Linked DNA regions of Homo sapiens: region 1 is linked to region 2. The links come from fine-mapping of genetic effects on gene expression. A gene starts in region 2. The other region holds a variant in brackets. All regions are shown on one strand. Distances are between the middles of the regions. Region 1 overlaps ACSM1 (acyl-CoA synthetase medium chain family member 1). Region 2 holds the start of REXO5 (RNA exonuclease 5).

Region 1 (5,379 bases), 170 kb after region 2:
CACCATCTCAAAATGAAAGAAAGAAAGAAAGAAAGAAAGAAAGAAAGAAAGAAAGAAAGAAAGAAAGAAAGAAAGAAAGAAAGAAAAAGAAAAATTAAACATGGGGTAACACATATATTTTATATAATGTCCAGGCATCTTTGAGGACCACAGATATATATCTGCATATTACAATCATTTCAGGAGATTTTTTAAAATAGTAGTACTTGGATGCAACCAGAGATTCTGATTGAGCTGAAATGGGGATAATCCAAAGAAATATATTTAAAGAAAAAAACAAGGTCTTGCTCTGTCACCGAGCTGGAGTGCAGGAGCGTGATTAAAGTTCACTGTATCCTGGACCTCCTGAGCTCAAGTGATATTCCCAACTCAGCCTCCCAAGGAGCTGGGACCACGGGCAGGTACCACCATGCCCAGCTAATTTTTTGATTTTTTGTAGAGATAAGGTCTCACTATGTTGCCCAGACTACTTTCAAACTCCTGGGCACAAGTAACCCCCCTGCCTCAGCCTCCCAAAGTGCTGTGATTACAGATGTGAGCTATTGCACCCAGCTAATTTTTTTTTGATTGAGCATGACATATTTTATTTTCCAAAGAACTCCTAACATATACCCACACCTACGTATCCATGAAATGTCAGTATTCCTCCATTGGGACTTCTTTGGGTTTTTTTCCCTCCTTATTTATGTAAAAGAATTACAGAATTACCATGAGACCCAGCAATTCTACTTCTAAGGCTACTTACTACCAAGAAGTGGCAGCAGGAACTTGAACAGATACTTTATTTTTTACTTTATATTTTATTTATATAAAATGTAACATAAAATTACTCTTTTCACCATTTTTGAGTGTACAATTCAGTAGTATCAAATAAAGTAACAATGTTGTACAGCCATCACGATTACCCATCTTCAGAAAATGTTTACCATCCCAAACAGAAATTCTACTAATAAGCAACATCTCACTGCCCCAGTCTCCAGCACATGATAATCTCTAATCTGCTTTTTAAAATCTATGAATTTGCCTATTTTAGGTTCCTCATATAAGTGAAAATATACAACATTTGCCCTTTTGCGTTTGGCTTATTTCACTTAGCATAACGTTTTCAAGGTTCATCTATGTCTTAGCATGTAACAAAATGTCATTCCTCTGTAAGTCTGAATAAAATTCCACTGTATGTATACAACACATTTTGTGTACTCAGTTGTCTCTTAATGGACATTTTGGTTATTTCCACATTTTGCTTATTGAGAATGTTGCTTCTATGACCACTGTTGTTTAAGTATCTGTTCAAGTTCCTGCTTCCATTTCTTGGGAGTATAGACCTAGATGTGGAATTGCTGGGTTCCATGGTAATTCTATGTTGAACTTTTTGAAATAAATTACCAAACCACTTTCACAATGGCTGCACCATTTTATATACCCACCAGAATATTTTTGATCCATTTTGAGTTAACTTTTGTATGTGTTGTAAGGTAACTTCATTATTTTGCAATTGGGCATTGAAGTTTCCCAGCACTATTTGTTGACGACTGACCTTTCTCCATGGAATGGTTTTGGCACCTATACTTAAATCAATTGACAATATATGGGAGAGTTTCTTCCAGGACTCTCTATTCTATTGCAATGATCTGTCTGTCTTTATGCCAATACCACACTGTTTCTATTACTGTAGTTTTGTAGTAAGTTTTGAGGTCAGGAAGTGTGAGTTTTCCAACTTTATTCTCCTTTTTCAAAAATTTTTATTTCCTTTTATTTTTGAGGCCAGATTGCAAGACTGGCTAATTTTTGTATTTTTAGTAGAGACAGGGTTTCTCCATATTGCCCAGGTTTGTTTTGAACTCCTGGCCTCCAGCGATCCACCTGCCTTAGGCTTCCCAAAGTGCTGGGATTATGGATGTGAGCTACCGCGCCTGGCCTTTATTCACCTTTTTAAAGATTGTTTTGGCAGTTTGGGGTCCTTTGAGATT[C/G]TATATGCATTTTAGGATAGGTATTTCTAGTTCTGCAACAACAACAAAAAACCATTGGGATTTTGACAGGAATTGTGTTGCCTCTGTAGATAGCTTTGGGCAGTATTGTCATCTTAATATTAAGTCTCCAATAAATGAGTATCATATGTCTTTTCATTTACTTATCTCTTCTTTAATTTCTGTAGTAACGTTTTGTAGTTTTCAGTGTACAAGTCTTTTGCCTCCCTGATTAAATTTATTATGAGTACTACTGTCTTGTATTCTTTTTGATGCTATTGTAAATAGAATTGCTTTCTTAATTTCCTCTTTGGATTTTTAATTTTTAGTGCACAGAAGTGCAATTGAGTTTTTGTGTGTGTATGGATTCTGTTTTTTACAAGTTTACTGAATTTATGTATTAGCTTTAACATTTTTTTTGAGTGTGTAAAATTCTTCGGGTTTTCTATATATGGTCATGCCATCTGCATGCAGAGATAATTTTACTTCATCTTTCCAATTCAGATGCCTCTTATTTTTCTTTCTTGCCTGATTGATTTGGCTAGAGCTTCCGGGACTATGTAGAATAGAAGTGGTGAAAGCAGGCATCCTTGTGTTTTTGGTCTTAGGAGAAAATCTTTCCAACTTTCACCATTGAGAATAATATTAGCTGTTGGTTTTTTATATGTGGCCTCATCATGTTGAGGAAGTTTCCTAGTTTATTTAGTGTTTTTACCATGAAAGGGTATTGAGTTTTGTCAAGTGCTTTCTCTGCCTCAACTGAGAGAAAACCTTGTGGTTATTTTCTTTTCATCCTATTAATGTGGTTTATTATATTTGTTGACTTTTGTATGTTGAAACAGGAATAAATCCCACTTGGTCATGATGTATAATTCTTTTAAAGTGTTTCTGGATTTGGTTTGCTAGTGTTTTGCTGAGATTTTTGCATCAATATTCATAAGAGTTATTGGTCTGTAGTTTTCTTCTCTTGCAGTGTTTGTCTGGCTTTGGTGTCAGGGTAATGCTGGCCTCATAGATTGACTTATAAAATTTTTCCTTTTCTTTAATTTTGTAAAAAGAGTTGGAAAAGGATTGGTCTTAATTCTTCTTTAAATATTTGTCAGAACTCATCAGTGAAGCCATCTGGCCTAGGCCTTTTCTCTTTTGGAAGGTGTTGATAACTAATTTTACCTCCTTATGAGTTACAGATCTATTCAGAGTTCTATTTCTTTGTGACTCCTGTTTTTGGTAGATTGTGTGTTTCCAGTAGTTTTTCCATTTTATCTAGGTAATCAAACCTTTTAGCATACAATTGTTCATAGTATTCTCTTATAATTCTTTTCATTTCTGTAAAATGTTAGTAATTTAAATTTTCACTTTTTTATTAATCAATCTAGCTGAAGACTTGTCATCTCTTCAAAAGAAATAACTTTTGATTAAGTTTTCTTTGTTGTTTTTCTATTTGCCATTTTATTTATATGAACTCTAATCTTTATTTCCTGCTTCTGCTATGCTTGGGTTTAGTTTGCTCTTCTTATTCTGGTTCCCTAAAGTGTAAGGTTTTCGGCTTGAGATCTTTTTTAACGTATGTGCTAAAGACTGAATGTTTGTGTGTCCCCCAGATTCATATGTTGAAATCCTAACCCCCAATGCAATATTTGGAGATGATTATATCGTGAGCATGGGGTCCTCATGAATGGTGTTAGTGCCCTTTTAATTTTTTTATTTTAGTAGTTTTGGGGGTACAGGTGGTTGTTGGCTACATGGATAAGTTCTTTAGTGGTGATTTCTGAAATTTTAGTGCATCCATCACCTGAACAGTGTGGTCTTTTAACCCTTACCCCCTGCCAACTTTGCCCTCTAGTCCCCAAAGTCCATTATATCATTCTTTGCCTTTGTGCCTTCATAGCTTAGCTCCCACTTAGAAGTGAGAACATACGCTATTTGGTTTTCCATTTCTGAGTTACTTCACTTAGAATAATGGCCTCCAGCTCCTTCCAAGTTGCCACGAAAGACATGATTTCACAGCTTTTTATGGCTTAATAGCATCCCATGGTGTATATATACCACATTTTCTGTATCCACTCATTGGTTGATGGGCACTTTGGTTGGTTCCATATCTTTGCAATTGCAAATTGTGCTATAAACACGCATGTGCATATGTCTTTTTCATATAATGACTTCTTTTTATTTGGGTAGATACGCAGTAGTGGGATTGCTGGATCGAATGGTAGTTCTACTTTTAGTTCTTGAAGGAATCTCTATACTGTTTTCCATAGCAGCTGTACTAATTTACATTCCCACCAGCAGTGTAAAAGTGTTCCCACAACCATGCCAAAATCTATTGTTTTCTGATTTTTTTAACAATGACAATTTTTGCAGGAGTAAGGTAATATCTCATTGTGGTTTTAATTTGCATTTCCTTGATGATTAGTGATATTAGTGCCCTTTAAAAAGCAACTCCAGTAGGGTTCTCCAGAAGAGTCCCATTCTCCATGTGAGGCCCCATCAAGAAGACAGCCATCTATGAAGCCTCACCAGACACCAAATTTGTTGGTGACTTGATCTTGCATTCCCAGTCTCCAGAGCTCTAAGAGATAATATCTATTGTTTATAACCCACCCAGTTTATGGCATTTTGTTACAGCAGCCTGAATGGGCTAAGACAGTATGTGTGTAAATTACCTTTTTAGCACTGTGTTTGCTGCAATCTATAAGTTTTAATATGCTGTGTTTTTTATTTCATTTGTCTCAAGATAATTTCTAAATTTCCTCGTGACTTCTTCTTTGATTCATTGGTTAGTTAAGAGTATGTTGTTTAATTTTGCAAAGATTGGGAAAATTTGTGATTTTTTAAAAGTTTTCCTTCTGTTAATTCCTTTCATGTGACTTGATAAGATGCTTTGTATAATTTCTGTCTTTTAAAGTTAATTAATACTTCTCTTCTGGCCTAATATATGGTCCATCCTTGAGAATGTTCCATGTGCACTTGAGAAAAATGTGTGTTCTTCTGCCGTTGGATGGAGTTTCCTGTATATGTCTGCTAGATCCAGTTAATTTGTGGTGGTGTTCGAGTCCTCCATTTTCTTATTGATCTTCTCTCTGGTTTTTCTACTCGTTATTGAAAGTGGTATATTAAATTCTCCAACTATTGCTGTAGAACTGTACAGTTCTTCCTTAAATTCTGACAATGTTTGCTTCATGTATTTTGGGGCTCTGAGGTTTATTGCTTATATGTTTATGATTATTATATCTTCTTGGTGAATTGACCCTTCTATTAATAGACAATATCATTTTTTATCTTTTGCAATTATTTTTAACTTAAACTTTATTTTGACCGGGCATCGTGGCTCACGCCTGTAATCCCAGCAGTTTGGGAGGCCGAGGCAGGTGGATCACTTGAGGTCAGGAGTTTGAGACCAGCCTGATAAACA
Region 2 (5,379 bases):
AAATTTAACACAATTCTAGACTGGATCTTATTGCTAAAAAGCGTTATTCAAACAACTACAGAAAATTTGGATGGCATCTGAGGAGTAGATGGTCATGATATATCCATGGTAATTTCCAATTTTGATGGTTGCATTGTGATTATGTAGGTTTATAGAGAATATATAATAAAATATCTTGAGGGTGGGTAGAAAAAGACCATTGTGTCAGCAACTACTTTCAAATGTTGGTTGAGGGGAGGTTTTGATACTATTCTTACAACTTTTCTAAAAGTTTGAGATTGTTTCAACATAACAAAATATGTGATTGTCAATCTCCTTACACTAACCACATAAACATTAAACATTTTTTTGCAAATTTGATAGGCAAAAAAACTGGAATCCCACTTTAATAAAAAAAATTTTCAGCTGGGTGCAGTGGCTCACACATGTAATCCCCAGCACTATGGGAGGCTGAGGCAGGTGAATCTCCTGATCCCAGGAGTTGGAGACCCTGTCTCTCTTTAAAAAAAAACAAACGAAAAAAAAACAAAAAAAAGCAGTGGCTCATGCCTGTAATCCCAGAACTTGCAGAGGCCAAGGTGGACAGATCGCTTAAGTCCAGGAGTTCAAGACCAGCCTGGGCAACATGGCAAAACCCCGTCTCTACAAAAAAAAGAAAAATTAGCTGGCACAGTGGCACACATCTGTAGTCCCATCTAATTGGTGGAACTGAGGTGGGAGGATCACTTCAACCTGGGAGGCAAAAGTTGCAGTGAGCCAAATCCAGCCTGGGCAACAGAGGGAGACTCCACCTCAAAAAAAAAAAAAAAAAAAAAAATCACATCCCTAATCCCTCTCTCACATATTATAACTTATTTTTATCATTTGTCTCTGCCCACTAGAATATAAGACCTACTAGGGCAGTGAACTTGATTCACTGATGTACCCCAAGCACCTAGGTCAGTGCCCCAGCACATGGCAGACAATAAAAACCAATGAATAGCTGGGTGCAGTGGCTCATGCCTGTAAGAGGCAGAGACAGGAGGATCCTTGTCACACCACTGTAGTCCAGCCTGAGTCCAGCAGAGCAGAGACCCTGTCTCAAACACAAAAACAAACAAAAAAGCCCAATGAACGACTGAAGGGATGAATGAAGTATATTTAGTTCTCAGTAAATGGTAAGGATGATAGGGATAATCAGCCTTTTTATTCCCCTATTGCAGCGGTCCCCAACCGTTGGCACCAGGGACCGGTTTCGTGTTAGATAATCTTTCCACTGACTGGGAGAAGGGCTGGGGGGATGGTTTCGGGGTGATTCAAGTGCATTACATTTATCATTAGAGTCTCATAAGCAGCATGCCACCTAGGACCCTCGTATGCAAAGTTCACAATAGGGCTCACAATAGGTTTGGCACATTCCTATGAGAATCTAATGCCTAGGTGGAGCTCAGGGGGTAACGTTCTATCGGCCACCGCTCACCTCCTGCTGCTTTGTGGCCCGGTTCCTAACAGGCCAGCTGTGGACAGTGGGTTGGGGACCCCATGGACAGGCAGGTACTAGTCTGTGCACAGGGGGTTGGGGACCCCCGCCCTACTGGAATGTAAACTGCACGAGGGCAAGGAATTGTATTTTTGTGCCCCAGGATATCGATGAACATTCCTATTATGTACAGGCAGTTTTTTTTTTGTTTTGTTTTTTGTTTTTTTTTTTTAAGAGATGGGGTCCTTGCTATATTGCCCAGGCTGGTCTTGAATTCCTGGCCTCAAATGATGCTCCCGCCTTGGCCTCCCAAACTGCTGGGATTACAGGCGTGAGCCACTGCACCCGGCCCACCATCCCAGTTTTTTTTTTTTTTTTTTTTTTTCTGAGACGTGATTTCTTTCTTGTTGTCCAGGGTGGAGTGTAATGGCGTGGTCTTGGCTCATTGCAACCTCTGGTTCCTGGGTTCTAGCGATTCTCCTGCCTCAGCCTCCCAAGTAGGTGGGATTACAGTCACCCACTACCACGCCTGGCTAATTTTGTGTGTGTGTTTTTGGTAGAGACGGGGATTTCTCCATGTTGACAAGGCTGGTCTCGAACTCCTGACCTCGTGATCCGCCCGCCTCGGCCTCCCAAAGTGCTGGAATTACAGGCATGAGCCACCGCACTCGGCCGACTCACTATCCCAGTGACAGCCAATGACAGCCTTGTTGCAGGAAGGTGGTATTACACTCATTCCCATTTTAATGATCAGGGATCAGGTTCGGAGAGGCCAGGGCGGAGAGCCCGCCCGAATCCAGTGCCCCCGACGGCGGTTGGGCGAGGGTCCGGGAGCTCCAAACCGCCTAGGGCCGCCTGCTCGGGATCCCCGTTGCTCACCTTGGCCTCGGGCTGACTCTCCTCGAGATCCCAACCGGCTTTCATCGCCTCAGCTGCCCCGACCAGCTTATTTGGGGCCTGCCTGCTTTCCCTGACCTTCCTGGGGTGTCTCTCGGTCCCTTCCCTCTCTGGCTCCATGGCTGTGGAGAAAGATGAGGTAGAGCTGGGGAAACTCCAGCGCCCCTATTCCCCCGCGTGCCGCCTCCTAGCGGGAGAGCTACACGGGCTTGACAGCTTTCAACCTCCCTCGGATCCGCTTCTCAATTCAGTTTACCGAACTATCCCCGTTCCCCTAAAAAAGCGAAGGTGCCAACGATCTCCCCGTTCCGCGGACTGGACACCCGCGCCGCTCTAACCCAAACGGCTTTACCGTCCGCATCGGTTACCGGATTCTCAACGGTTCCCCAACGGCTACAACGGGCGTCTGCCTGGCAAAGAAGGAAGGTGCTGCCGAGCGGCTTCGCCGCCTAAAACCACTCCCCACGCCCCCTAGCCCGGGAAACGCAGAAGAGAAGACGGGCGGGGAGCAGAGGTTCTCCCCTCCTTAGCCACAGCTGCCAACAACAACCGCCCCTCAGCCTCGCGGGCTTTTTGAACGGACCGGAAGTAGAAGTCGAGCGACTTCCGGCAGCTGGACTTGGAAAAGCAAGGAGTGTCGGGAATGGCGACCAAGCGGCTCGCGCGGTACTCGAGGGAGTTCCGGGTCGGGGGCGGGTAGCTCCGGGTCCAGCGCTGGCGTTGGCCGCAGAGCAGGGCACGGCAGGTGGCATCTGCGGTGAGGGCCTCTATTCCCCGCAGCCCCGGCGTCTGCGACCTGCCCTCTCTGGCACGGTTGGAAAGGCGCCTCCCTGGACCTCGGTCTTCAGCCTTGGGCCACCTTCTACCCGAGGGTGACAGGAGCCCGAGGCGGACGAACCCTGGGGCCTTGACTGTGTGGCCTTGAGCCAGTGCCTGCCTATTTTAGGCCTTGGGAAACGACTGGACGTGACAGTGCCCTGCAGACTGGTTGGAGGTCTCAGGCAGGCCACACACTGAATCTGTCAAGGTGTTCAACCTGTTCGAAATGCTCGTTCCTCGGTGCTGTAAAGAAATAGAACTTAAACTTAAATTTAATTTATTTAGTAAGGCCATTTTTACTTCCTGCAGAAAGGGTACACTCGCCAGCAGTTTTGCCAGGAGAGTACACTGAACAAAGGAGACAGGGTCATTTATAACGTGGCGCGTCCACCCTACTGCTGTGTCCGGTTTCCTTTGGCTGGAACGGGACCTCACATTCTGTATTTGTCCCGACTGACTAGCAACATAGAACTTTTTAAAAGAGGCAAAGGCAGAGGAGAACAAAGGAAGAAGGAAGTAACTTGTGGAATGCTGAGAAAGGTAAAAACACTTTTAAGTAAGGAAGAGGAACAGGCTATGACCTAATGTTTGATTGGACCAGTATAAGCATGCCAGGGCAAATATTTAGGCTAAATTGTGGGAGCTAAGAACATAAAGTACATTGATTTCTTTATTATATCTAGCAGATATTTAAGAATGTTAGCACAGGTCTTTGAATAAATTTTGCTCTAAGAGAAGTTACTATTTATTCCTAATTAGACGGGGAAGGAAGTCTTTGAAGAGGAACCTCTACTTTTTACAAACCCATTTTCTAGTGATCTTTTTTTTTTTTTTTGAGACGGAGTTTTGTTGCCTAGGCTAGAGTGCAGTGGTGCGATCTCGGCTTACCATAACCTCTGCCTCCCGGGTTCAAGTCATTCTCCTGCCTCAGCCTCCCAAGTAGCTGGGATTACAGGCATGCACCACCACACCCAGCTAATTTTGTATTTTTAGTAGAAATGGGGTTTCTCTATGTTGGTCAGACTGTTCTCGAACTCCCGACCTCAGGTGATCCACCCGCCTCAACCTCCCAAAGTGCTGGGGTTACAGGTGTGAGCCACGGTGCCTGGCCTAGTGATCCTTTTAATTCACAATATGAATTATTGTGTCCTCCCTGATTCCTGGATGCGCTGTGCATATTTCTGATTACTAGAAAGATGTAATATAATAGCAAATAGCATGAGCTTCAGAATTGGACAGTCTTGGGTTCACATACCAAAGCTATGTTCTTTGGCAAATTAAGAATCAGTTTTCTCATCCATAAAATATAGGTAGGAAAAGTTTCTAGCTACTACACTTGTTGAGGATTAAAGGAGGCCATCATCTTAGTTTAATTTTAGTACCTGCTATGTAGTAAGCAGTCAATAAATGATATTTATTATTCCCAAATCCTGGCACTTCCCACTCTTAGCAAACACAGAAAACTACAGGAGGTGTCTGCCTAGTTAAAACTCTACCTGCTAATACCAAGTAGTTTGTTTTACTTGCACTTAAGACCTCAGTAAGCTCTTCTCTTTTTTTCTTATTTTATTTTATTTATTTATTTTTTTGAGACAGGGTCTCGCTCTGTTGCCCATGCTGGAGTGCAGTGGCATGATCTCGGCTCACTGCAGTCTCCACCTCCCGGGCTCAAGCAATCCTCCCACCTTAGCCTCCTGAGTAGTTGGGACTACAGGTATGCACCATCACGCCCCAGCTAGGTTTTATAATTTTTGTAGAGACGGGGTTTCACCATGTTGCTCAGGCTGGTCTCGAACTCCGGAGCTCAAGCAATCCACCTGCCTTGGCCTCCCAAAGTGCTGGGATTACAGGCATGAGCCACTTTACCTGGCCCTATCTTTTGTTTCTTTACCCAGATTTTTAAACTGGAAGACTGAACCATGTCCTACATTGTCTTGTCTTCTTAAAACTGCACTGTACACATAGCAAGAGCTTAAAAAATGCAGGGGGAAAAATAAGATTTTCAGTGCATTTTTACCTCTACAATCAAATGATTGTAGGAACTCAAATGAGTTACTCAGTATTACTGTAAAACAAGGGTAACATAAAATTAGTGTAAATTGGCTGGACACAGTGGCTCAGGCCTGTAATCCCAGCACTTTGAGGGGCTGAGGTGGGAGGATTGCTGGAGCTCAGGAGTTCGAGATGAGCCTGGGTAACATAGT

The links. PIP is the estimated chance that this variant, and not a neighbour inherited with it, causes the effect.
Region 1: its variant is the best candidate, but not a certain one, in a credible set for the expression of REXO5 in pancreas (GTEx, PIP 0.83).

The regions. Positions count from the first base shown.
Region 1 is chr16:20,630,288-20,635,666 of GRCh38, reverse strand. All of the region lies in intron 10 of ACSM1 (acyl-CoA synthetase medium chain family member 1), which reads left to right. Among named protein-coding and RNA genes, the nearest start is that of ACSM2B, 57 kb to the right of the region's middle. The variant C/G (reference allele first, on the strand shown) is at 1,971.
Region 2 is chr16:20,804,051-20,809,429 of GRCh38, reverse strand. REXO5 (RNA exonuclease 5) reads right to left here and starts at 2,903. Exons shown (of 20, transcript NM_030941.3): 1 at 2,725-2,903; 2 at 2,339-2,478. The coding sequence starts at 2,476. ERI2 (ERI1 exoribonuclease family member 2) reads left to right here and starts at 2,958. Exons shown (of 9, transcript NM_001142725.2): 1 at 2,958-3,022. The coding sequence starts at 3,000. RefSeq lists enhancers at 2,099-2,238, 2,959-3,068, 2,817-3,762.